6 separate regions of the Homo sapiens genome follow, and all the other regions are reported to be linked to region 2. Evidence: microRNA targets listed by miRTarBase, many of them from high-throughput screens and not tested one by one. Region 2 holds a microRNA gene; each other region holds the end of a gene's coding sequence.
Evidence for each region. The annotated mature microRNA hsa-miR-6506-5p reads ACUGGGAUGUCACUGAAUAUGGU and lies in region 2 at 1,817-1,839, opposite strand. An mRNA with a match to its seed (bases 2 to 7 or 8) in the 3' UTR can be bound and repressed. Matches are read on the target gene's strand: a 7mer-m8 pairs with bases 2 to 8, a 7mer-A1 pairs with bases 2 to 7 and ends in A, and an 8mer does both.

Region 1 (4,089 bases), not on the chromosome of region 2:
TTGAAACCGATATTCACCCATTTAAGTGATGAAGCTTCAGGGCTCAGAAAGAGTGAGAAATTTGCCAAAAATTCTACAGCCAATCCAAGCAGAGCCAGGACTCCAAGGTAGGACCTGCGCCCAGGTGTGTAGCCTGTACCCCGAGCAGCTCCAGCACCGCCATCCACACACAAGACACAAATGAGAGCGTGCTCTCCAGACCTGTACAGCGCATGGCCTGCCAAGCTTTAGACCAAAGCCCCGACTCCAATCCAGGGGCCCGACTACAAAGCTGGTATTTTTCTTTACTCCATATCAAGCCCTTGGCTAAGAAATGGGGATTTCCAAGCCCACAGCTGCTCTTGTTTCTCCCCACAGTGCTCCTACATCCCAGGCAGCGTGGACAATTACCAGACGGCCCGGGCCGACGTGGAGAAGGTCAGAGCCAAATTCCAAGAGCAGCAGGTCTTCTACTGCTTCTCCGCACCTCGGGGGAACGAAACCAGCGTCCTATTCCAGCGCCTCTACGGGCCCCAGGCCCTCCTCTTCTCCCTCTTCTGGCCCACCTTCCTGCTGACCGGTGGCCTCCTCATTATCGCCATGGTGAAGAGCAACCAGTACCTGTCCATCCTGGCGGCCCAGAAGTAGAGCCATCCATCCATGCCATACCACTTGTCAGGGCACAGGGGACTGGCTGGGCCCCCAGGGCTGCTCCCCACTTGCAGCACAATGCCTTCTCCACCTGCCCTCCCACTCTTCCAGTCCAATCCACGCTGTCTTCTGTTGCAGGACTAACCTTTGAGAAATCCTTTTGTGAAGTCATTGCCTGCTCAAGAATGTACAGTGGCTCCCCAATGCCTTGGAGGCCATAAGGCCAGCCAGTTCTAGCTCTCTATTACCTGTCCCCACTCAACTGACTCATACCTGTTTCCGGCTGCATCACTATGTGCCCCACAGAGAACGATGATCGTCACCTCTGTGCCTGAGTTCTCCCTGTTGTCTCAAAGCGGTACCCATCCTCCCCCAGAAGCTGTCCCCAGCGAGCCTCCCTTCTTTGTTTGAATTCTCTAATAAGAGCAACAGCAGCTCCCATTTCTAGAACACATTTACAGTATTACTATTTTCTAGGATATAAAGTGCCATATATATTTTTAATTCCAATATTAATAAATGTATGCCAAACAACAATCAGCTGCAAGGAAACACATGAGAACTCATCAAAATTTTAGCGGTGGGATGGTGGTTAATTTCTGTTTTCTTCCTTATCCCCTTTTTATTTTTGCTGCTTTTCTAAATTTTTGATTATAGGAAGGGTGTGTTTCGTTTGCTTTTAATCAGAAAAGCCATGGTAGATGCCATTTTGGAAAAGTTGAAAGAGTGTGTCCCCCTCACAGAAAAAGATGGAAGTGGGTCTGGGGACGGAGTTGGGTTCCAGTCAGAGACAGGCCATTCAGAACACACAATCTTAAAAACCCCTCTGGGCCGGGCGCGGTGGCTCACTCCTGTAATCCCAGCACTTTGGGAGGCCGAGGCTGGTGGATCACGAGGTCAGGAGATCAAGACCATCCTGGCTAACATGGTGAAACCCCGTCTCTACTAAAAATACAAAAAATTAGCCAGGCGTGGTGGTGGGCACCTGTGGTCCCAGCTACTCAGGAGGCTGAGGCAGGAGAATGGCGTGAACCCGGGGTTCGGAGCTTGCAGTGAGCCGAGATTGTGCCACTGCACTCCAGCCTGGTGATAGAACAAGACTCCGTCTCAAAAAAAAAACAAAAAACAAAAAATGAAAAACAACCCTCTGGAGGAAAGGTCATGATATAGAGGAGGATTTGTTATTTAAATTGAGGGTATGGACTCTGGCACTGAGCCTGCTGGGGAAGCCTATCTCAGATTTGAAAAGGGCAAAATGGGAAGAAGCCATCACCTTTACCATTCCCACTCCAGGAAGTTTTCCTAGAACGATGACTGTCCAAGTGTGGTCCCTGGGCCAGCAGCATCAGGATCCTGTGGCAGCTTGTGAGAAATGCACACTCTCAGGCCCCTGTCCCAGCCCCACCACGCCAGAAGCCCTGCACGGGGTGGGGGTAGCAATGTTCTGTGTTCTAACAATGCGTAGGGGATTCTGTGGCACACCTCGAGCCAGAGAACTACCGGTGTAGGAAGTGAGCGTCCTGTCGCGAGGATTTTCAGAGCAGGTGAGTGACCATTCGGCAGGGCCAGTCCTGAGCTGGGTGTGAAGTTAGGCTGGTGTCTGAAGTTTCTTCCAGTGTTGTGAGTCCAAGATGCAGATCTTGGGTTTGAATCCTGTCTCTACTCTGCCCGATTTCATCTCTTTGATTCTTAGTTTTTTCATCTATAAAAGAAGGACTCTTTCTGGATAGTTGGGAGGGCTGAAGGAATGTTTGACACATCATAGGTGTTTAAAATGGCAACTATAGTTTTTTTTGTTTGTTTTGTGTGTGTGTTTTTTTCTTAACTTTCATTTTAAGTTGCAGGGTACACGTTCAGGTTTGTTACATAGGTACACTTGTGTCAAGGGAGTTTGTTGTGCAGATTATTTCATCACCCAGGTATTAAGTCTAGTACCCATTATTAAAGAAAATGTGGTACGTATACGTCATGGAATATTATGCAGCCATAAAAAGGAAGGAGATCATGTCCTTTGCAGGGACATGGATGGAGCTGGAGGCCAAATATTATCCTTAGCAAACTAACACAGGGACACAAAACTAAATACTGTATATTCTCACTTATAAGTGGGAGCTAAATGATGAAAACACATGGACACAAAGAGGGGAACAACACACACTGAGGCCTATTGGAGGGCGGGAGGTAGGAGGAGGGAGAGGATCAGGGAAAAAGAGCTATTGTTAGTAACAAGAAAAAGTCGGCCGGGCGTGGTGGCTCACACCTGTAATCCCAGCACTTTGGGAGGCCGAGGTGGGCAGATCACGAGGTCAGGAGATCGAGACCATCCTGGCTAACACGGTGAAACCCTGTCTCTACTAAAAAATAGAAAAAATCATAGCCGGGCGTGGTGGTAGCCGCCTGTAGTCCCAGCTGCTCAGGAGGCTGAGGCAGAAGAATGGCGTGAACCCGGGAGGCGGAGCTTGCAGTGAGCCGAGATCGCGCCACGGCACTCCAGCCTGGGTAACAGAGCAAGACTCTGTCTCAAAAAAAAAAAAAAAAAAAAAAAAAAAAGAATAAGTCATGAATACTCAGAAACTTCCAGAAGTTATACTGACAATGTTATCTGGCATGTATGGGTGCTTATTTATTCTGTGCCAGGCACTGTACTAATTAGTTTGCCTTGGAAAAAAAAATGAGATACTCCTGAACCTGCCTCACAGATGATGAGAAGCAACAGAGGACAGTGGCTAAGTATGTGGACTTGGGATGTGCACTGTTTGGGTTCAAATTCCAGCTGTGCTGTTCACAAGCTGGGTGACTTTGGACGAATAACCTTTCTGTGCCTGTTTCCTCGTTTGCAAAACGAAACTGATAATAGTATCTTTCCATAGAGTTTTGGCATGAAACAAATTTTTATGTAAATTTCCTAGGATAGTGACATATGGTAAGTGCTATCTAAGTTACTATGAAAAACTGAGGCTGTAAGAGGTAACTGGCCAAGGCCATCTGTAAAGTGAGGGGCTAGGACTCAAGCCTGGAGCTGTGTGTTCCAGTACCTGGCATCTCAACCACAGAACTCAGCAGAGCCAGCTGTGAAGGGCTGAGGGACAGAGCCAGCTGTGAAGGGCTGAGGGGCAGAGCCAGCTGTGAAGGGCTGAGGGGCAGAGCCAGCTGTGAAGGGCTGAGGGACACAGCCACTCAAAGCCACAGGGGCCAGGCAGGGAGCTGCGTTGCATCCCTGGAACCCAGGTGCCCTCATGCAGGTTGGAGTTCTGAGGGGAGGCCCTGGCATCTGCACCAGCATCTGCCAATTCCAGCCAGGGAGCCCAGAGGTATCCCTGTGGCCTCCAGTTTCTTACCTGGTGGACCTTCCTTCCAAAGGCAGGCAGCTCATCATTCCCTGGAATTTTTTCCTTCTGGGGTCAGGGAAGTCTCAAAGGTCCTCATGTGAGTCTTTTAAGAAAGTCTTAATTGTAATAT
Region 2 (4,089 bases):
CAAACAAAAAAAAGAAAACCTACTGAATCTTTTTTTCAATAATTACCCCCAAAACAAGTTTGAATAATCCTTTATTGAAGGAAAAAGCCATATTTATCTAAAAATACTAATGAGTCAGGAATATGGCTTCTCTGACTGGAATAGCTTAGATTTTCATCCTCTTTCGTAACTCCCTACTTCCCAGAAAAACAGGTCTGGAACGTGAAAAAGTATTTCCTATACGTTGTTCAGAAAAATACTTTATAAAATTAGAATTTCTTCACTCACTTGTAAAGTATCAGGTATGGCTTCAAAAAGTTCAAGTAGTTTGGTAAACCCATAGTACGCAAGTTTGCACTGCCGGCCAAAGTGGTGATGGTAAGAAGGGATAAATTTATTAAAGGGCATCCGGAAATGGGGTTGGTGACGCAGCAAATCAACGACATCCTTGGAGAACTGTTTTGTCCTTTCTATTTCATCCTGAGTGCGTTCTTTTAAAAAAACCAAAAAACATAAAATCACAGTTTTTTTCTACCCATTTGTGTTCAACATCCACACTAGAGTAAATCCTTTTGGGAATTTATAAACGATATCATCCTTGCCTTCCAAACACACACAACCTAAAACAAACACATATACTCTTCCCTCTTTGCAAGTGGTTCTCAAACATGTTCCAGGGCAGAACACCAGGAAGTTATGATATTATTATATTATGAAATTCATATATATTCATCTTATAAGCTAGAAACAATGTCATCTTATAAGCTAGAAACAATTTTCTAGCCCCTGCCCCATATCTATTAACATGACACACACCCAGGTCCCTGTACTTAAGCAAGTACTCTAGAAATTATTCCCATGAAATCACGCTTCTGAATATCCCCACTTTTTTTGTTTATTCATCTGATCTTCAGTTAAAACTTGCTAGCAGAAGAGAGAATCAGGCTTCAAAAGTTGAACAAAAATAAACAGGAGGGAAAGCTTAAGCTGAGATTGTTTCTATTAATTTTTAAGTGAGAATGGGCCCTGGAATTCTATGATTTCATGGACATCAATGTTCTGCAGGAGCACCGTTTAAGAACCAGATAATAGAAGGAGGATACGACCATACAGTCACCCCTTGGTGTTCTCAAGGGATCGGGTCCAGGACCCTGCCTGGATACCAAAATCCGCACCTACTCAAGTCTTGCGGTCTGCCCCGCGGAAACTGCAGACACGAAAAATTGGCCCCCAGTATCCATGAGTTTCGCATCCCTCAAATACTGTACTTTCTACCCGTAACTGGACCTGTGCAGTTCTGACTTCAACTATTAAAATTTGAAAGGCAAAAGAAAAAAAAACATTCGAGTTGTCTTCCCTTCTCAAGTGTGCACAGTAAATAAAGTAGCTCAGAGTTCAACAGAAGAGCAAAGCCAACAGGCACGGTGACAGATTCTCAACTGGATGACTAAGGCTCATGTAGCCACAGCCAGGCTGCAGAAGGCATTTGAGCAAAGTGCTGATGATGCCCCTTTTTCCCCTTAGAGTCAATTCTAAAAAGCCAGCCTGCTTTTGTTCTTGAGAACAGCTTCACCTACTTTGAAGAACACAGAATCCAAAGAGCAGCAGTTTTCACACTGTGCTTTCTGTGGAATCTTCAGGAAGCACGGACAGGGAGGGAAAACCACATCTTCCATGCCACACTATGTTAAAATAACAGGAGATAGACAATATCCTTCCAGCAAATGTTAAGTCACATACCTCTTTTGGGGATACAAATCACCATTTCATTATCTTGTTGGGACAAGCAGATGGTTGTGTCTGGAATCTCTGATACGATGTCAATCAACTCACAAACACCATATTCAGTGACATCCCAGTCCTTTGAGAAACACCTAGGTTTTAACAACGGAAGTGGATACGGAATGAGTAGTATCATCGGTAGAAGAACTACAAGTTTTCCGGCCGGGCGCTGGGGCTCACGCCTGTAATCCCAGCACTTTGGGAGGCCGAGGTGGACGGATCACGAGGTCAAGAGATCGCGACCATCCTGGCTAACATGGTGAAACCCCGTCTCTACTAAAAAATAGAAAAAATAAGCCGGGTGTGGTGGCGGGCGCCTGTAGTCCCAGCTACTCTGGAGGCTGAGGCAGGACAACGGCATAAACCCGGGAGGCGGAGCTTGCAGTGAGCCAAGATCGTGCCACTGGGCGACAGAGCGAGACTCCGTCTCAAAAAAAAAAAAAAAAAAACAAAAAACTACTACAAGTTTTCCAAAAGAATGCTTAATAGAAATACTAGATAACTATTTAGAGTTTGGCAGAAGATAAAATGTCCTAAAATATTTACTTTCATTTCTGTTCTTTTCATCAACTCACCAGTGATAAGCCTGTGAGAATTCTCTCACAATGACCTGTTTGCTGGCCTGGGATTTGAGAAGTTTTAGTAAATCCTGAGTAAAGCGCTTCACCTGGGCCCTGTGGGTAAGGGTCAGCAGACGTTTGGAGCCCATTCCAAGAATCTGCAAAGCAAATAGTTTATTTATACACATAAGACCTCAGCAGACAGCGACTTCCTTGCTGCTGGCTCACCCTCTCGTTACTAGCCTCAGAGCATGACTCCCTTTATGTAGAATGTGTGCAATTTGAAACACATGTCGATCAACAAAATGTAGTTGGTCAAAAGGAACAAATGTCCAAGGCCTTCTGAAACTCTTATCGTTTTTGGCCTGGCACACCTTCTCCCAAACAGTCGTTGAGTATAAAAATGAAAAGTGTAATCTTTTGAAAAGAAAAGTCGTGAGTACAGAAATGAAAACTGTATTGGTTGTCCAGACAAATTGGTCTACAAGTTTTTCAAGCCGTTTTTAGTGAGTGGGAAGCTGTTATAACACTGTGAGTTAACTGGTAAAAGTCTTCATAGGATCCAGTGCTACACTCTAGCCCAGTAACTTGTCTCCAACTAGTTAAATTTAGAAGAAAGGTTAAGCCCTTGACTCTCACATAGGCACCAACATACAAGTATGTGGCTATTCATGGGAGCTTCCTTGTAATCATGAACAGTTCTGGAGAAAGCTGTGCTGGGATGAAGAAGGTCTATAGAGCTTAGAGGGAAAATACTCCTCAGTCCTCCAAGGAGTTCCTCTAAAACTGGAAACTAGCAGCGTTCTGAAAAATTGAGAAGCCGCCTGTGTGTGTTATTCCTGCCCTCTGAAGAAAGTTTTTAGTGGATGTTCTGCCCAGAACTGACTTCTTAGGAATTAAACTGTTTCTTTGATGGAGGCAGCCAAAGCCATGGAGGAACATTCCTGCCTGTAAACAAGTAATCCCGTGACACGCCTTACCTGCAATACATGAGGCACTGCTTCTAATAACTCAATCAGCTTGGAGTATCCGTAGTCTGACACTCGGCACTGCTTTGCAAAATGATGGTGATAGGATGGGATGAAATGACTGATGGGTATGACACAAGATGGCTGGCTTTTCAGCAAGTCAATCACTTCTCTACTGAACTGGATCAGCTGGGGGTTACCTACAGGACTCTTCGAACGCAGAAGCCAAGGGTCTAGAAGAAAAAGAACGTGTATAAGACAGAAAGCACAGATTTCACCAGCTGAAAGAAGGGAAAATGGCCCTGCAGTCCCTGGCTTGAGTTCGATCATGGGGAAGCAAACAAAACCAAATACAGTAGCTGCTTTACGTCTCAGTTTCTATATTCAGGTCTCATAGTCCAATAACTAGCTAACTAACTTATTCACGGGCTGTCAAATGCTGTCCCACTAATCCTCAAAGTTAAGCGGCCAAGGTAAAGCAGAGTCTACTATAGTGTTATTTATAGCAGAAGTCAAAGTACACAAGAAGCTCCCAGTTTAGAAACTAGTTATATTTCCAAGATCCTTCTGAAACTTGGTCATGTGGAACGTACCTTTCCACAAAGTTATAAATGGTCATCAGGTAGGTGGCCCAGAAGAGCAAAATTAATCCATAGTGGAGCTGAAAACGTTACCCAGAAAACCACAGAAAGTGATAATGTTGTAAGATTAGCATGACATAAAAGGGTGTAAGGAACAGGTTTTTGCACCATCTTGACTGCTTATACCTATTAAAAAGGTATAAGTAATCAAACGGAAAT
Region 3 (4,087 bases), not on the chromosome of region 2:
ATGGGTATAACCGAACAGCCCTCCACTATGCAGCAGAGAAAGATGAGGCTTGTGTGGAGGTCCTATTGGAGTATGGTGCAAACCCCAATGCTTTGGATGGCAACAGAGATACCCCACTTCACTGGGCAGCCTTTAAGAACAATGCTGAGTGTGTGCGGGCTCTCCTAGAGAGCGGGGCCTCTGTCAATGCCCTGGATTACAACAATGATACACCGCTCAGCTGGGCTGCCATGAAGGGAAATCTTGAGAGTGTCAGCATCCTTCTGGATTATGGCGCAGAGGTCAGAGTCATCAACCTAATAGGCCAGACACCCATCTCCCGCCTGGTGGCTCTGCTAGTCAGGGGACTTGGAACAGAGAAAGAGGACTCTTGCTTTGAGCTCCTCCACAGAGCTGTTGGACACTTTGAATTGAGGAAAAATGGCACCATGCCACGAGAGGTGGCCAGAGACCCGCAGCTATGTGAAAAACTGACTGTTCTGTGCTCAGCTCCAGGAACTCTAAAAACACTCGCTCGCTATGCCGTGCGCCGTAGCCTGGGACTCCAGTATCTCCCCGATGCAGTGAAGGGCCTTCCACTGCCAGCTTCTTTGAAGGAATACCTGTTACTTTTAGAATAGCCGGAGAAGATGTTTGCACCATCGTGCAGGCAGCTCTGGGTGAGGTTGTCCCTGCAGTACTCCTTGTCACAGAAAACAGAAAAACAGTTGTTCCTGTTGTGTGGTTTATAGATTTCGAAGCAACATGTCACAACAATAACCTCCATAGCACCTCCCCTTCCCAAACCAAACAACCCAACAAAAAAAATCCCTCACTTTTGTTTTCTGTTTATTGCTTACCTGGCTTTTTATATTGCATTTTGCAAAAGAAGAGGTCTCCCTCAATCCTCCCCTTTAGGGAAGGAGTCAACAGTGTAACTAAATTTCTCTAGGAAGATGGAAAGTACTTAAATAATGTGTGTGTGGTTTTCCTTTGGGGACGTGGTTAACGGTCCAGAAGAATCCCTTCTAGAAAGCATTTTAGGCCAGCCATGGTGGCTCACGTCTGTAATCCCAGGACTTTGGGAGGCTGAGGCAGGTGGATCACCTGAGGTCAGGAGTTCGAGCCCAGCCTGACCAATATGATGAAACCCCGTCTCTACTAAAAATACAAAAATTAGCTGGGCATGGTGGCATGCGCCTGTAATCCCAGCTACTCAGGAGGCTGAGACAGAAGAATCGCTTGAACCTGTGAGGCAGAGGTTGCAGTGAGCCAAGATCGCGCCATTGCACTCCAGCCTGGACAACAAGAGCAAAACTGTCTCAAAAAAAAAAAAAAAAAAAAAAAACCATTTTAATTGATCTGTGAAAAAACTTAAGAAAATCACAATTTCAGCTAACAGCAATTGTGTCCCAAAGATGAAGATACTATAACCTCAAATGGTGCAGATCCAGAACTGGGCTGGATGACATCCCTACTGTGCCATGTCCTGGGGCATTTGGAAGGGACTGGACCTCTTTCCCCTCATCAAAGGAAACAGCAGTCTTTGCCTCTTTCTGTTGGTTGTGCCCAAGGGCTACAGTAGCTCTGAAATAACAAGAGCTCTGTAATAACAGTAATAAATAGCTCTGAAATAACAGTCCTAAGAACTCCTAAAGTCCTGAGAACTTTTCTTGTAATGCAGCTTTTTCTCTTCCTGAGAAACAGTGTGTTCTAATGGGATTCCCAGGCAGTTCCTACACCTACGGTGTGTGTTCCAGCAGGGAGGAGTTATGGGCTGGGCTGCCTTTTCCCATGGGTCTTCATTCCCAATGGAAAGTTCACTCTGCTTAGTTTGGAATTATTTTTCTTTCAGTTGTTCTGGAACCTTTGCTTTTTATTGATTTATACAATACAATTGGTGGGAGGGTGGACTTGGGATGGGAGTGGGAAAAGCATGTAAGAGCTCCTTTTGTGATGGTCCATCTACCCAAAAGAGATCTGCTTTAGTGAACGATACTCTTTCATTTTTCTAAATTAGATCAAGTTGTTATTGATTTTAGATGACTTGTATGCAAATTTGAAAAACTTTTTTTTTTAAAGCTGATTGGGAACTACAAACAATGAATGGAATCTACTGACACAGCTAATTGGAAAACAGATGTCTTCTTCTGTCCTATTGATGCTGGTGTTTAAAAAACATCACTTAAAAAAAAAGAATAAATAGTTCTAAAAGCAAGTTTGGCAATTTCTACTTTTCCTACTTTTCTCCAACCCCCCTTAGAAAAAGTTCTTCGTTTACTGCCTGGCTGTTCTATGTAACTTTCCATCCCAACCTTTCTCCCATTAGCAGCAGTGATTCTGGGCATTGCTGGAGTGAACAGGAGGGCTTGGGCAGAGTATCTGAAGAGCTTCCCCTTCCTTTATACCTTCTCCCACCCCAAATTTGGAATTACTGCTTTTATGTTCTCAACTCCAGCTGCACATAAAATCACTAAGGAAGCTTTTTAAAAACACTGGTGCCAAGATTTCACCTCATACCAATTCTTTGGAATTTTCTGGGGTAGGACTGGGGGCTTCAGTGCTTCAAATATAGCCAGGAATGAGATTCCACTGTGTTAGTCAGTGGTTCTCAATCCTAGTTATTAATTAGAACCACCTAGGAAAATTTTTAAAAATACTAAAGCCCAGGCTCCACCCCCAGAGATTGATTTAATTGGTCCAAAGCAGACCTAGTAGGGCTGGCCACAGTGGCTCACGCCTGTAATCCTCACACTTTAGGAGGCCGAGGTGGGAGGATCATTTGAGACCAGGAGTTGAAGTCCCCATCTCTACAAAAAAATAAATGAATAAAGTAGACCTGGGCATGAGTACGTTCAAAGGTCCCAGGTGATTCTAATATTCTGGTAGATTTATAAACTGCTTGAGATGCTACTTCATTTCTCATCATAGATACTTAATATTCTAGAAAGAGAAAGTTTTGTCCATGTGGGAAAAAATGTTACCTGTTTCTCAGTTACTTCATAATCACTTATGTGGTTGGTGGCTAATAAATTCTGCTTCACCTCCACTTAAGAGTTCAAACACAATTTCACTTATCTTTTTAGCTCTGGGGAAATAGCATGCACCTTCATAGGTTTTTTTTGTTTGTTTTTAAGTGGTCTTCACTATGCCTTTTTTTCCCAGATCGTATCATCATCCTAAATTTTTTACTCTTTACAGAGTGACATTTTCCCTCTGATTAACTTTCCCTGAGCCATCCTTCCCTCTTCATTTTCTTGAGGAAACAGCTCTAAGATTAAAGACAGGAAAGAGACAGAGAACCTATAAATCAATGGCAATTAGCATTTAAAATGTTCTGAATGAATGCCTGAACCTTCCCTTTCACTTTGTTTTCATAGGCCTTATGGCTCTGGGGATTTGATATGGCATGATAAGGAAGCAGGAATGGGGAATGAGGATGAGGTTTGAAGTCAGAACTGAGTTTGAGTTCTACTTGAATAATATTGAAGGAGACATTATGTAATCAATCACCTTGAGCTCCAGTGTCCTCCTTTCTGAAGTCAGGCTGTCACCATTGCCCTCCAAAAGCTACTATGAGGATTCAATGATGAAATGCCTACCACAGTGCTTGATATTTATTGTTAATTTCTCTTCCCACTAAAGAACTGTGCAAAGAGTATTTGGCTGCCTTATTCCCTGACTCCAGCAACAAACCTTCTCAGTCACTATTTAGAACTGTTTTTAGAGTTTGGCAGTGACAATTTTTCAGACAGCCAGCAAGTAGTGTACTAGAGATAATCCCTTCCTCCACCCCCTGTGATACCCTTAACGTCTTTACTGCTTCATCAGACAAGTGTCTGATACATGGGGCTGACAGTATTACATTCCACTTAGGAAGATGATAACAGGAGAAGCAAAAGCACAGTGACCAGTTGGCATTTATTAGTGTAGTTACAATTTGTCACTGTAGTAAAAGTAGTAGAGGAACCAAGACTCTTTGTTATCACAAAGAAATAAATAAAGCTTATTTTTAGGAAAATTCTAACTGAGTAAGTGATATCTAGCAGTAGCACTAGAGGTGCCCAGCCTTGTGTGACAGATAAAGCTGGGGCAGAAGTCATGTTAA
Region 4 (4,089 bases), not on the chromosome of region 2:
ACCCATCTGCCTCGGCCTCCCAAAGTGCTGGGATGACAGGCGTGAGCCACTGCGCCCAGGCTTCATGTGCTTTATAACTGCCAACCCATTAATGCGTCAGCCCATTGCTGCATCATTTATTCACGTATGCGGCAGAATATTTTATGCACCTGTCATCCATTTATTTGCCCATCTGCTCCTGAAGTTTGTCTCTGCCCATTTATTCATTTGTATGTATTTGAAACGTGCTCATTCACTGACATGCCCCGGCTCCCGCTTCCCCAGGTGTCTCTCTGTTAATAACCCCTCCTCACCCCTCCCTCCTGCCCACACCAGAGCTGCATGGAGGCTGCCAGCCCCTCAGGCGCGGGGCCCCTGCTCATACTGTTGTCCTGGTCTAAGTGCTCATTCCCAGTTCCCCAACTGAAACAGACTCAGCTCCAGAGTATGTGGTGAGGACTGTGTGGAGCGGGGCAGGGAGAGCAGGGCTGAGTCCCATCTGGTCCCCTCTTCCATGGCCTAGATCTACATCCAGACAACCACGCTAACCGTGTCCTTGAGCCTGAGTGCCTCGGTGTCCCTCGGCATGCTCTACGTACCCAAAACCTACGTCATCCTCTTCCATCCAGAGCAGAATGTGCAGAAGCGAAAGCGGAGCCTCAAGGCCACCTCCACGGTGGCAGCCCCACCCAAGGGCGAGGATGCAGAGGCCCACAAGTAGCAGGGCAGGTGGGAACGGGACTGCTTGCTGCCTCTCCTTTCTTCCTCTTGCCTCGAGGTGGAAGCTGTATAGAGCCCGGGTCCACGGTGAACAGTCAGTGGCAGGGAGTTTGCCAAGACCATGCTCCGCGTCGGTGGGGCTGGCCTTGAGAAGGAACTGGACCCAGCTCTACCCCGATTCCAGCATGTGAGCTTCATGCTTCCTCACCACAGACCAGACTCGCTTCCCATGGTGGGAAACAGCCACCGAGAAGGTTCTAGCTCTAGAAAGGGACTAAACTTATTCTCTCATCCGAAGTCCAAAGAGGATGATGAAGCCCTGGGCTTTGCCTGGTTTGCGGGAGATTTCCTCCCCTCAGTCAACCCCCATAACCTGGGGATTGGGCAGTGTGGAAGAACGTGTAGACCCCAGAATGAAACATGGGGTTGGAGTGGAGGAGGAGCTGTCTCAGCAAGAGGAGACCTGGGGCTGTGCATCTGGATGGAGGCACTCAGGCCTGGGTAGGATTCCTCTGGCACGGAGGGAGAGACCCTGGGTGAGACCCCTGTGAGCATGGGAAGGGCCTGCAGTGGGCGCGGGAGTGAGCTGAGGAACTGGGGTGCGCCCCCATGAGATTCCCAATGCCATGGGCTTTCCCCCATCCCCCCGGGATTGGGCAAGGTCAGACTTAGAGTACAGCTGTTTTCCTCCCCTCTGTGTACTCCCTTAAATCACCCCAACCTTGGCCAGGCATGGTGGCTCACACCTGTAATCCCAGCACTTTGGGAGGCCGAGGCAGGTGGATCACCTGAGGTCCGGAGTTCGAGACCAGCCTGGCCAATGTGGTGAAACCCTGTCTCTACTAAAAATACAAAAATTAGCCAGGTGTGATGGTGGGTGCCTGTAATCCCAGTTACTTGGGAGGCTGAGGCAGGAGAATCGCTTGAACCTGGGAGGTGGAGGTTGCAGTGAGCTGTGATTGTGCCACTGTACTCCAGCCTGGGTGACAGAGCGAGACTCTGTCTCAAAAAAACAAAACAAAAAAACACCAAAAAAACCCCCAAACCTGAAGAAATTCAGATACACGTGTGTAATGTTAGTGATGTGAGAACAAGGAGCAGGGGTGCATTTGTGTTGTGTTCGGGTTGGGGATGGGTTTAGGAGCTCCAGGTTGGGAGCAGTGACAGAGAGTCATGGCCGTGGTGAGGGTGAATCCCAAGTGGATGGCTCAGGACGGGTATGGAAACCCTTCATTCCTCATAGGTACTGGGAAGTCCATTTGCAAGCTGAGCGCCAGGCCTGGGGAGGAAGAGGCTTGGGCTGCAGATGCACGCACATTTGTTTTTCACTGATAGTTTTTACAAAAAGCTTGGTTTAAGTTATGGAGTTTTATGTCCCTGGGAGTAGAATTTACATTTGTTAAATTGACCACTGTTTAAGATCAGTATACATTCTCTAGTCTGTGATGTCTGGAGCTAGTTTTGAGGGTGAACCACACTTTATCCAACATACAAACTTTCCCATGCAGCTTCTCTGGTGCGCAGTTGGTTTTGACCGTGGGACTAGGTGCTTCTGCAGGTTTTAAGTAATTAACTTAAAAGCTTCTCCTCTGAGAAACATTTCTGTTGCGCTACTGACTCTCCTTCTCCACATTTGTTGTGTTCCTAGGGCTTCTCTATAGTGCACATTAGGACGTTTCATTTGTTGCTGAATGCTTTCCAGAATTATTTATTCCATAGGGTTTCTCTCCTGTGCAGCTCTCTCATGGGTAATGGGGCGTGTTTTCTTGCCAAAGGCGGTTCCACCCTCGTGATTGTATAGGGCTCTTCTCCTGTATGAACTCTGAGATCAGTGAGCTCTGATCTCCAAGGGAAAGTTTTCCTGCATTTGCTGTTTTCTCATGTCTCTCCCAGTGTGAATTCTTTGGTGTGCAGTGCGCTCTGGCTTCTAGCTGAAAACTTTTCCACAGTTTTACATTCATGTGGTTTTCTCCACTGTGAACTCTGTGATTCAGAATCAGAAGCAGTTCTTAGTAGAGGCATTTCTACACTGATTGCACTGAGGATTTCTCCCCAGTGTGAAGTTTCTGGCATAGAGTCCTGGCTTCCCGCAGACGACTTTCACACTCTGCCATGTTCATGCCTGTGGGCCTCTCTGGCAGGAACTCTGATGCACCGCGAGGCCCATGTACTCCTGTGGCTTTCTCACATTCGGTCTACTTGCAGGGTATCTCCACAGCATGCACCATTCTGGGTACAGGGGGACATCCTCTGTTACTGAAGATGTTGTCATATTTAGTACCTTCACAAGGTTTCTCTCCTTCCAGAATTTTCTGATGTACACAAATAACTGACTTCCACAAGAGGGCTTTTCCACACTCGGTGTGTGCATACAGTTTCTGCCTGTGATCATTTCTTTATGTTATTATTTTATTTTTTCGAGATAGGGTCTTGCTCAATTTCTTAGGCTGGAGTGCAGTGGCACGATCATAGCTCACTGAAGTTTCGACCTGGGCTCAAGCAATCCTCCCGCTTCAGCCTCCTGAGTAGCTGGTGCGCACGACCATACCCAGCTAATGTTTTATTTTTTGTAGAGACGAGGTCTCACTATGTTGCCCAGGCTGGTCTCGAACTTCTGAGCTCGAGCGATCCTCCTGCCTCCACCTCCCAAAGTGTTCGGATTACAAACGTGAGCCATCGCACCTAGCCTCTTTGATCATTTCTGTGGTGTTCAGTGGAGGTTGACAGCTCCCTAAAGATTTTCCTGTTTTTTTGCATGCATGGGTTTGAATTCTTTGAGGTCCAATTTATTTGGACCCCTGAATAAAGTTTTGTGGGTTTTCTTCTATGTGTGGAATTTATAAGGCATTCTTCCAGTGTGGTTTCTCTTATGTCGAGTGAGAGCTGACCTGCACCGAAGGTTTTGTCCCATTTGTTGCCCTTGAATTATTTGTATGAATTATATGTTCCAGTGAAAATGGAGTTCTGGGTTGGAGGCTTATTCCATGTTTACACAATTAAAATTGCAGTGTTCCTCTCTGGGATGAGAGCTCTAAAGCAGAGTAAGATTACGTTCTGATGTAAGCTTTAACCACCTATTTATAAGGTCTCACCTGTGGTCCACTGTGTTGAGACTTCTACAGAAGAGCTTCTGTATAGTAACCATTTTCTTAGGCTGTCTCACTTGTGTGAATCTTCTGACACATTTATTATAGCTTTGTCCCATTTCTTATCCTTTTTGCTCTTTAGAAATTTCCCTTTAATTTATTACATTCATTGCTTACTGTAAAGAGTCCAGGTAACTGACTTTATTCAGTTACTTCCTGTTCAATAAATTTAACTTTTCCCAAAAGTTTGACTTAGGTCTTCGGTTGCTTCTTTATACAGATATTGTTTCATAAAACTTCTTCA
Region 5 (4,089 bases), not on the chromosome of region 2:
ACCAAATACCTTATAATCTAGAAATGGACAGTTATTTTTAATATGAACCTTCATTTATGAAATTAGGTATACCAGAGGAACATTCTGAGAAGGATTGAAATGTTTAATGTGTATTTCTACCTTCTCCTCTTCACAGAAGAATTTTTTTGGCCCAGGGAAGGCAGAACTAGAGGCAGTTGGTTCCTGTGTTGAGGAATGTGTGATACTGAAAGATTTTCAGGATGAGGTTAGCCAACTCTTTACAACAATGCAAATATGGCTTCCAAAGCTGTAGAAGCACCAGAAGGTGGGAAAAGGGTAGCTATTTACTGATGCTGTAGCTGAATATAATCTGTGATATCTTTCATTAGGGTCCAATAGATAGGAAATGGTCTGTTTTGAGCATTTTCCCCCTCCTTTTTAATCAACAGAGAGTATAAAAATCCTAGCCGTGGTTCTTCCCCCACAGTTTGAGCTCATGGTTGTTCTCTTGATCTGCTTAAATGATCTGTCTGATTTCTGTCAGTTAAGTGCTCATTTCCATGATTATTATGCTTTACCAATTTTATAAACTTGGAACTAAGAAACATTTCAAATTGTACTATAGAAAAGTTAAACATAAAATGTACAATAAAATTCTGAATACACTGGTTGATTATTTTAATTTCTTACAGGTTTGTGTATTAGACCTTCGGAAATAGCGCTACTAGTTGGAAGCCATGGACCGACTATGAATGTGTACATAGCCAAAATGACTGTCCCTGACCCATGTACTGCTATAGTCCCACTTGAACCATGGCCAGTCCACTACAGCCAAATCTAAAAGAAATATATACATACAGTGTATATAAACAAAATTGCACCCTGAAGATGACAGAGTTTTGTCACAGCTTGTGAATTCTGTTCACCAAGTGCTGGAATCTAATCTGCTGTGCCCCTAAAATAGCATTTAGAAGTTTTGGATATGAAAAACAGAAGAGAGAAAAATATACATTATAAAAGCAGAACATACATGTACCAGTTTTTGGATACTAAATGACAGCCTTGTTTCTCCCCTTTGAATCAGCAGACACCATGGATTATATTCTTTTTTTCCCTTCAGTAGTGAGCAGTTTGTATGTACAGAGAAAATGGACTTACAAAAACTTGCAGCAGTAGTTTGTTCTTGCTTTAAAATTTCGTTTTTGGTTTAGATTATGGATGCATGAAGTAAGGGAGTGAATCAGTTTCTTGTTTATATTTTTTTCACCTTTTAAACAAAAAATTCTTTAAAATATTTTAATGCATTCTTTTGAAGAGGTAGATGTTTGGTACATTTTATGGCTCCCAGAGCATATATTCAGTTGGTGCATGTTGTGGAAGGGGGAATTGGAAATTAAATGAAAACCTATGACTTTGGTCATGTCAATCTGTAAGACACATCAGTAAAAGGGTATTATGCTCTGTTGGTTTTGTTTTTTTGTTTTGCTTTTTTTTTTTTTTTTTCTTTTTTGTTTTTTGGTGATGTGGCTTAAATGCAATAGTTTCTTTTTTGGGACATATTTCTGCCAATTAAAGACTAGAAGGGCACAACTTTTTTTTTAATTACCATAGAGAAGATACATTAAAAAAAATCTTCTGATGTTTTGTAGCCATAACTAAATTATGGTAAAAATGTGCACTATTGTGAAAAGGAGCAACGTAGTTTTGGGTTTTTTGTTGTTTGTTTGTTTTGCTTTGTTTTTTAAGAGATTAAAATGTTTCTGGATAAGGATTAGCTTCTCGAAGTGTCCATCATTCTGTGTAGAAGCTTAAATATGTAATGTAACCAAACTCCAGTATTAAAAATCTCTCATGTTGTTTTCTTTATACAAAGCAAGATAACGGCATATAACACTGCCATTACATGGCAAAATGTTTGCTACCTTAGTTTAAAAAACAATCTCAAACAAAAGACTTGCTTCAAGGTGTTTTTAAATAGCAGTGATTCAGAATTTTTTTTAATGAAAGTATAATTGCACTAACCTTCTTCCTGCTGCTCTGATTCTGCATTTGTGGTACTTGTGACTACGTTTTTTCAAATATAGATAGATTTAAGCTGCTAATTTTTTTTTTTTTAGTAATCACTACTATATCATGTCTTTTACTCTGTTTATAATATCAAGTATTTTCTTAAAGATATAGATATTAAACCTTGTGCTCATGCAACTTAGAGTAACATATACAGACAAATGATTGCATGAGGCCATGTTTATATGTGTGACTAATAAGGCTTGTCATGATTAACATAATCCAGGTATGTCATTTCTGAAGAGAATAGTCATCAAATTTATATCTCGAAGATTTTAATTAAGGAATTGCTTATTGTTGAGCTTAGCAAATTAATAACACTATTTCTGTCACTAATTATTTTGAGGCCTTTTAGTACTAAAATTTTAACCTGTGTTCTAAGTAGAAACTGATTTAACCCAAGTAATGCAGCTTTGATTGATTTCAGCATTCGTTGCTTTGCTATTTTTACAAAACAGCATTGATTGAAGCAAGTCTTGGTTTTACTAAGGTAGGGTAGCATTTGCTATTGGTAAAGAGAATAAATACACTTAATTTCACAATACATTGTTATATGTACCCCAGTTGTTGTTAGTGGGGACTATGATACTGTAATAATATTTTTAAAAATTTACATCAAGAGAGGCAGTCATTCACGATGGTTTTGTGCCAGCTCTTTTTAGGGTTTTGGATCACATTAGAGATATTTAGAACATATTACCCTGTGACTTACGTAGGAAACCTAATATGCTGAGTATCTGGCACTTGAATTCCTGCTTTTATTGCTGGAGGTCCACATCTGTGGTTGACCTCTGTTATTGTTTAAAAAAAATAAATAAAAATTAAAAAAATCTGTGCAATAATTTTAAAATGTGCTCCCAGGAATAGACACAAATGTTTTGAGTATCTTTTAAGCTGCATTTTCCTTTAGTGATGCATTTGTCAATTGCACTGAATTTAAATCTGAAAGTCAGAGGTGATTATTGATAGTACTTTTGTATTTTGATATGGACAGTTTATTCATTTGCATACAGTTATTGACTTTTTCCCAGCTGATTAAAAGATAGTCAAGAAATTCTGCAATATAGCTGCCAAAATAGACAGCTACATTTTTATGATATTGTCATCTTTTCTGTTTTTTTTTTCTTTTTTTTCTTTAGCTATTTTACTTAAGCATAATAGCCACAATAGGACATATAAAAGATTATAAATACAGAGCTTTATTATCCTGACGTCTTGGGTCTTTTAAGTATATACTTTTCTGAAAGGTATCCATTTTGTAGGCTTGGGTTCTTCATGAGCATACGATTGTTTATTTTTGCTGCTGTTCTCAACATCATCATTGCCTGCTGATGTGCCACGATGCTGCTCCAATAGACAGCAATAAGATTGTCTCTAATTTGAGCAGTAACATGATTGCAAGAGACCAAGTTTCACAGCTTGTAAAGTTCTGTATTTGGGATTCTTGCTTATTTTTCCGCCTGTGTTTTTCTGAGAACTTATTCCTGATGATCAATTGAATCCAGTAGTTTTTCTATGCTATTTGTTGTTGTATAAGCTACTGTAAGAAACTTATCATAAGGAAAAATAGAAAGGAAAACTTGAATCAATACTCATTGATTAAAATGGAATAAAGAAAGAGCAGCTGCCACTTTTAAACAACATAAAGGAATATCTTTTTTTGTCTCCGTGTAGGAAATCCCATAAGTTCTTATATTTGTTCCAGTTCCCATTTCCTGCCATTGACCAGATAACATCATTGACTTTCAAATGACTTTTAGAAGTGATAACTCTTAATTTCCTAATAGATACTAGATTGTATTGAATTCTGTTTTAATTATTCTCTAGGTAAGTATGTTTTAGGATTAAATACCTTTTACAGATACTGAAAGTGCCTCCTTTTGTGGTGTAAAAAACAAATTATGGTGCAAAAAGTAATCACTAGATTGAAATACATGAAGGTTTTTTGCTTTTTGACATACGAAAATGTCAAGAGAAAGGCCAAAGATTTGTACTTTTTCACTTACAAAGCACTCCTTTTTCCCTTAAACTTCTTTCTGTCAAATTAGATTTAATGAGAGA
Region 6 (4,089 bases), not on the chromosome of region 2:
TCACCTGCGCCGTGGACACAGAGAACATCCGCAGGGTGTTCAACGACTGCCGCGACATCATCCAGCGGATGCACCTCAAGCAGTATGAGCTCTTGTGAGGATGCTGCCGCCACCCTGCGACGGAGCGGCGCCCCGGACTGCCTGACTGCCAGCCCCATGCCATGGTAGGAGGCAGAGTCTCTAGTTCCATCTCGCTGCCGTCTGTCCCGTTCTGTGTCGACCACCAAGCCTCTGGCTACCTCTGTCCCCTCAGGTTTGGTTGTGTAGCTTCTGTTGTCATTGAATACGGCCTCCCGCAGCATCCCACCCCCAAACCACCGACTCTCATTGCCGACACTGCAGCAGAATCTCTCCGGGTGGGAGCCCCATTATTCATTCTCCCTTTATTGATTCATCGAGGAGAACTTGGTAGATGGGGAGAAAACACAGTTGGTTTTTTTTTCCACGTTATCAACCGTGACTGCAAGAGCGTTCGTGCAGTGCCCTGAGCCACGGCCGTCTCTGATTCTCCCTTTATGAAGCTGCAGGCTGACGAGAGATGGTCCCTTCCCATTGGCCTTAGCCCAAGACTTGGAGTCGACCCCAAGCGACAGAGTGACCAGAAACCCTTTTACAGTCACATTCAGAGTCGCTGCTGGCCTCAGGCATTTGAATTAGAGCTACTTTGAGCCTCTTAGGCAGAAAACCTACCACATTCACTACTGCAAAATGTGTCCTGTCTAAAAATGATTCTCTAAACTTTCCCTATACTTAGGCATAGTCTTCTTTCTTAGATTCTCTTTGTTGTTGTCCCTATTGCTGGTTTATTACACTGTACAGACCACAAAATGTAATATTCTTTTGTATAACTACTAAAGAAAAATCCTTGTAGATCTTTGTGCCTTCACCATGGCTATCTATACCTGTACATGAAATGTGTTTGTATTGTGCTGAAGAGCTTAATGTCAACATTACCTGCTGCTTACTCTGAAAAAAGGAATGAATGGTAGCTGTAGAATTTAGGATATTTTATCAGGTTGGCACTTTATAAAATACTCCCTGATTTAAAAAATTGTAAGTTATACACGTTAATCATCCACATTCTATCGACAATGTACCAACATCACAAGCTGTTGCAACCACCTGCTGTTACTTCTCTGAGCTGTAAAAACCTGAACTCAATTCAGGGGTACAAATTGCAATCTAATCTTTTCAGGGAACCAGGGATTTTTTTCTCTCTCTCTAGACAATATGTTTCCTCATTAGTCTGCTAATGAAACACTTCTTCAAGTTCCCCAAGTGGGAACAGGTCCATCATTCCCTTAGTCAAAACTTTGGACACAGGCTACGTCATACAAGTAAGCAAACAGTAAGAGAAAAACAAAATGTGGCCAGGCGCGGTGGCTCACGCCTGTAATCCCAGCACTTTGGGAGGCCGAGGCAGGCGGATCACGAGGCCAGGAGATCAAGACCATCCTGGCTAACATGGCGAAACCCTGTCTCTACCAAAAATACAAAAATTAGCCAGGCGTGGTGGCGGGCACCTGTAATCTCAGCTACTCGAGAGGCTGAGGCAGGAGAATCTCTTGAACCTGGGAGGTGGAGATTGCAGTGAGCCGAGGTCGTGCCATCGCACTCCAGCCTGGACATCAAAGTGAGACTCAGGCCAAAAAAAAAAAAAAAAAAAACCTTGACGTGTCAATGTTTGTGTCTGGCCTAGGAGAATGAGGATGACAGCTTCACTTGCCTTTTGAAGAAGAAACATTACAAAACCTTAATCTGAAGTATAAAGTCAAAAGATACGGCTCTTTCTCACACTTGCAAGACTTACAAATACAGCCTCAAACATTATGACACACCAACAATATCTAGAAAGTAAGAACTGGTGTAGCAATGATGCTTCATATTCTAGCTGTAGCCACAGAGTTGAGGGTAGTTTTTGTAGGTCTAAAATAATAATCTATAAAGATGTCCAAAGTTAAATTTTCAACAATACAAATCTAGAGAAGTGACAGCCTACATTACTTCATTATTACTCTTCTTTTAGTCTTTAGTCTTTAATATTTTAAAGTTTACTCTATAAATCAGCATTTTGTAATCCTTTATAAACTCATCCAGATTTAAATGCTACTTTTTCATGAAGAAAGGATAACTTTATAGACAGTCAGTGCAACACACACATTTTATCTCATCACCGTCTTACTGCCTCCCCATCCACTGTCTCATAAAGCCCTCAGCTGAACTAAGATAAATAATACAATGGAAATTATTTTCAGTTCCCCTTGCACTGTCAAAGTAAAACAAGAAAACTGAAAAGCTGCACCCCCAGCAAGAAAGGGAAGTATGCTGTTGTATGCATCATTACTCAACAATTACCCTCTAACTAAACATCCTGTTTAAGAGTTTAATTCAAACAACAGCCAGACTGTTAAGAAAAAAAACAAAAAGAATAACTTTTATCTGGCTTACAATTATTAAAGCATTTATTTTCAGGTACCAAAAGCCATATCCCATTCCACTTTTTAAGTTTCTTTTGATCACTGACAGGCATTAACAGATGTAGCAACGTGGTCTCCTATAGAGAAAATTACACTTATCTAAAAATCTGATTCCATTAATTGATCAAGTATAAAAATCTACGAAAACAATATGTTCTGCACATCACATCTGTACTTTTTTTTTTTTAAATATATTTTTTGAGACGGAGTCTCACTCTGTTGCCCAGGCTGGAGTGCAGTGGCATGATCTTGGCTCACTGCAACCTCCGCCTCCCGGGCTCAAGGGATTCTCCTGCCTCAGCCTCAGCTGGTATTATAGGCACTTGCTACCATGCTTGGCTAATTTTTGTATTTCTAGCGGAGACGAGGTTTCACCATGTTGGCCAGGCTGGTCTTGAACTCCTGACCTCAAGTGATCCACCCGCCTCAGCCTCCCAAAGTGCTGGGATTACAGGTGTGAGCCACTGTGCCCGGCCACATCTGTACTTTTAAGGGTACAGCTTTACAGTACATAGGAATTTGAGAACCACTTCACAGGAAGAGGGAAACAGCCCAATATTTATTTATGTATACACATAATCCCAAGTGTGTGCTGGGGCCACCAGGCCCTTCCTGGGGGAACAAGGACTGTCGTGCATGTGAGTGACGACATTAATAGCATTTACATACTGTACAGATGCAACCTTTGATGATACATATATTTGATAAAAATGAGAAAACAGATTTGTTGTAGAGTACCTGTCCACTTTTATAGCATGAGAACAGTACAATCAACTATTTATTTTGCAGTTACTCATTTCAGTGATTGAGAATTTCTGTGCTGTGCAGAGAGACGGCCTGTAATTGGTCTCATCATCCACTTGATTCTAACATGATCTCTGCCCAAAGTTCCATTTCTTGGGCTTTGATATTTATAATGGCGCCTGCTCTTCATCTTGTCTTACGCTTTCCGAGCAAGTTCAAACCAGAAAGAAAAGGTGAGGCTAGAAGCCCAAAGTGAGTGAGTGTGAGGACCACAAGGAAGCCCACCACTCCACAGTAGATGATCAAAACCACATCCTCACGTGGGAGGTAGCACTTGGAGAGGGTGTAGTCTGTGGGCGTGATGCTACCCTGGAAAGGAGAAGGGAAAGTTATGCTGAGAGCACCAGGCACACGTTGAACACCGCAGTCTTAGAAACAGCAGAGGGAAGACTGCCTTCTCAGGTCCCCCTCAGGTGAGGCAGGGAACGGGCCCTCCTCACCTGAGACCAAGGGGGCCCAGCCTTCTCCCTGCACAGCTCACCCCCGACCAGCCCAGGCTCCAGCAGGAGAGACAAGTAAGGCCCAAGTGTGCCTGAGTGGAAAATGTCTGGGACACTGACCTGTCAAAACTGGCCCCTGGCTCACTGGGTTCCCATCAAATATAGTGGGGGATCCATAACAGAGATTCAGAGAGGCACCGTGGAGTTCCAGGGTCATCGGTCAGCGAGGAACAAGGAGGGAAAGGTGTCTTCCTGCCCCTTGATGCTCAACTAAGCATCTGTTCCCTAGAAATACATGTGTCCAGGTCGTCTCCATGGGCTTTTCTTTGCAGATACTTTTATGTGGAACAACAGTGGCAAATGTTTTC

Region 1: the mRNA of KCNMB1 is a reported target of hsa-miR-6506-5p. Seed matches in the 3' UTR shown: 7mer-m8 at 1,487-1,493 and 7mer-m8 at 2,896-2,902.
Region 3: the mRNA of ASB8 is a reported target of hsa-miR-6506-5p. Seed matches in the 3' UTR shown: 7mer-m8 at 1,050-1,056 and 7mer-m8 at 1,185-1,191.
Region 4: the mRNA of GRM6 is a reported target of hsa-miR-6506-5p. Seed matches in the 3' UTR shown: 7mer-m8 at 1,451-1,457 and 7mer-m8 at 1,586-1,592.
Region 5: miRTarBase lists TBL1XR1 as a target of hsa-miR-6506-5p. Seed matches in the 3' UTR shown: 7mer-A1 at 1,304-1,310.
Region 6: the mRNA of MPPE1 is a reported target of hsa-miR-6506-5p. Seed matches in the 3' UTR shown: 7mer-m8 at 2,920-2,926.

What each region holds. Positions count from the first base shown.
Region 1 is chr5:170,375,242-170,379,330 of GRCh38, reverse strand. KCNMB1 (potassium calcium-activated channel subfamily M regulatory beta subunit 1) reads left to right here. Exons shown (of 4, transcript NM_004137.4): 4 at 358-4,089. The coding sequence ends at 627. It also overlaps a transcript of KCNIP1 not described here. Among named protein-coding and RNA genes, the nearest start is that of KCNMB1, 12 kb to the left of the region's middle.
Region 2 is chr16:15,609,256-15,613,344 of GRCh38, forward strand. MIR6506 (microRNA 6506) reads right to left here and starts at 1,840; the gene lies at 1,775-1,840. MARF1 (meiosis regulator and mRNA stability factor 1) reads right to left here. Exons shown (of 27, transcript NM_014647.4): 17 at 3,302-3,522; 18 at 2,337-2,479; 19 at 1,720-1,853; 20 at 268-470. RefSeq lists an enhancer at 1,217-1,511.
Region 3 is chr12:48,145,899-48,149,985 of GRCh38, reverse strand. ASB8 (ankyrin repeat and SOCS box containing 8) reads left to right here. Exons shown (of 4, transcript NM_024095.5): 4 at 1-2,197. The coding sequence ends at 620. It overlaps PFKM (phosphofructokinase, muscle), which reads right to left. Exons shown (of 23, transcript NM_000289.6): 23 at 3,582-4,087. Among named protein-coding and RNA genes, the nearest start is that of ASB8, 9.6 kb to the left of the region's middle.
Region 4 is chr5:178,978,268-178,982,356 of GRCh38, reverse strand. GRM6 (glutamate metabotropic receptor 6) reads left to right here. Exons shown (of 11, transcript NM_000843.4): 11 at 503-4,030. The coding sequence ends at 700. It also overlaps a transcript of ZNF454 not described here. Among named protein-coding and RNA genes, the nearest start is that of GRM6, 15 kb to the left of the region's middle.
Region 5 is chr3:177,022,089-177,026,177 of GRCh38, reverse strand. TBL1XR1 (TBL1X/Y related 1) reads left to right here. Exons shown (of 16, transcript NM_024665.7): 16 at 654-4,089. The coding sequence ends at 680. Among named protein-coding and RNA genes, the nearest start is that of TBL1XR1-AS1, 13 kb to the left of the region's middle.
Region 6 is chr18:11,881,038-11,885,126 of GRCh38, forward strand. MPPE1 (metallophosphoesterase 1) reads right to left here. Exons shown (of 11, transcript NM_023075.6): 11 at 1,585-3,590. The coding sequence ends at 3,408. GNAL (G protein subunit alpha L) reads left to right here. Exons shown (of 12, transcript NM_182978.4): 12 at 1-4,089. The coding sequence ends at 98. Among named protein-coding and RNA genes, the nearest start is that of MPPE1, 25 kb to the right of the region's middle.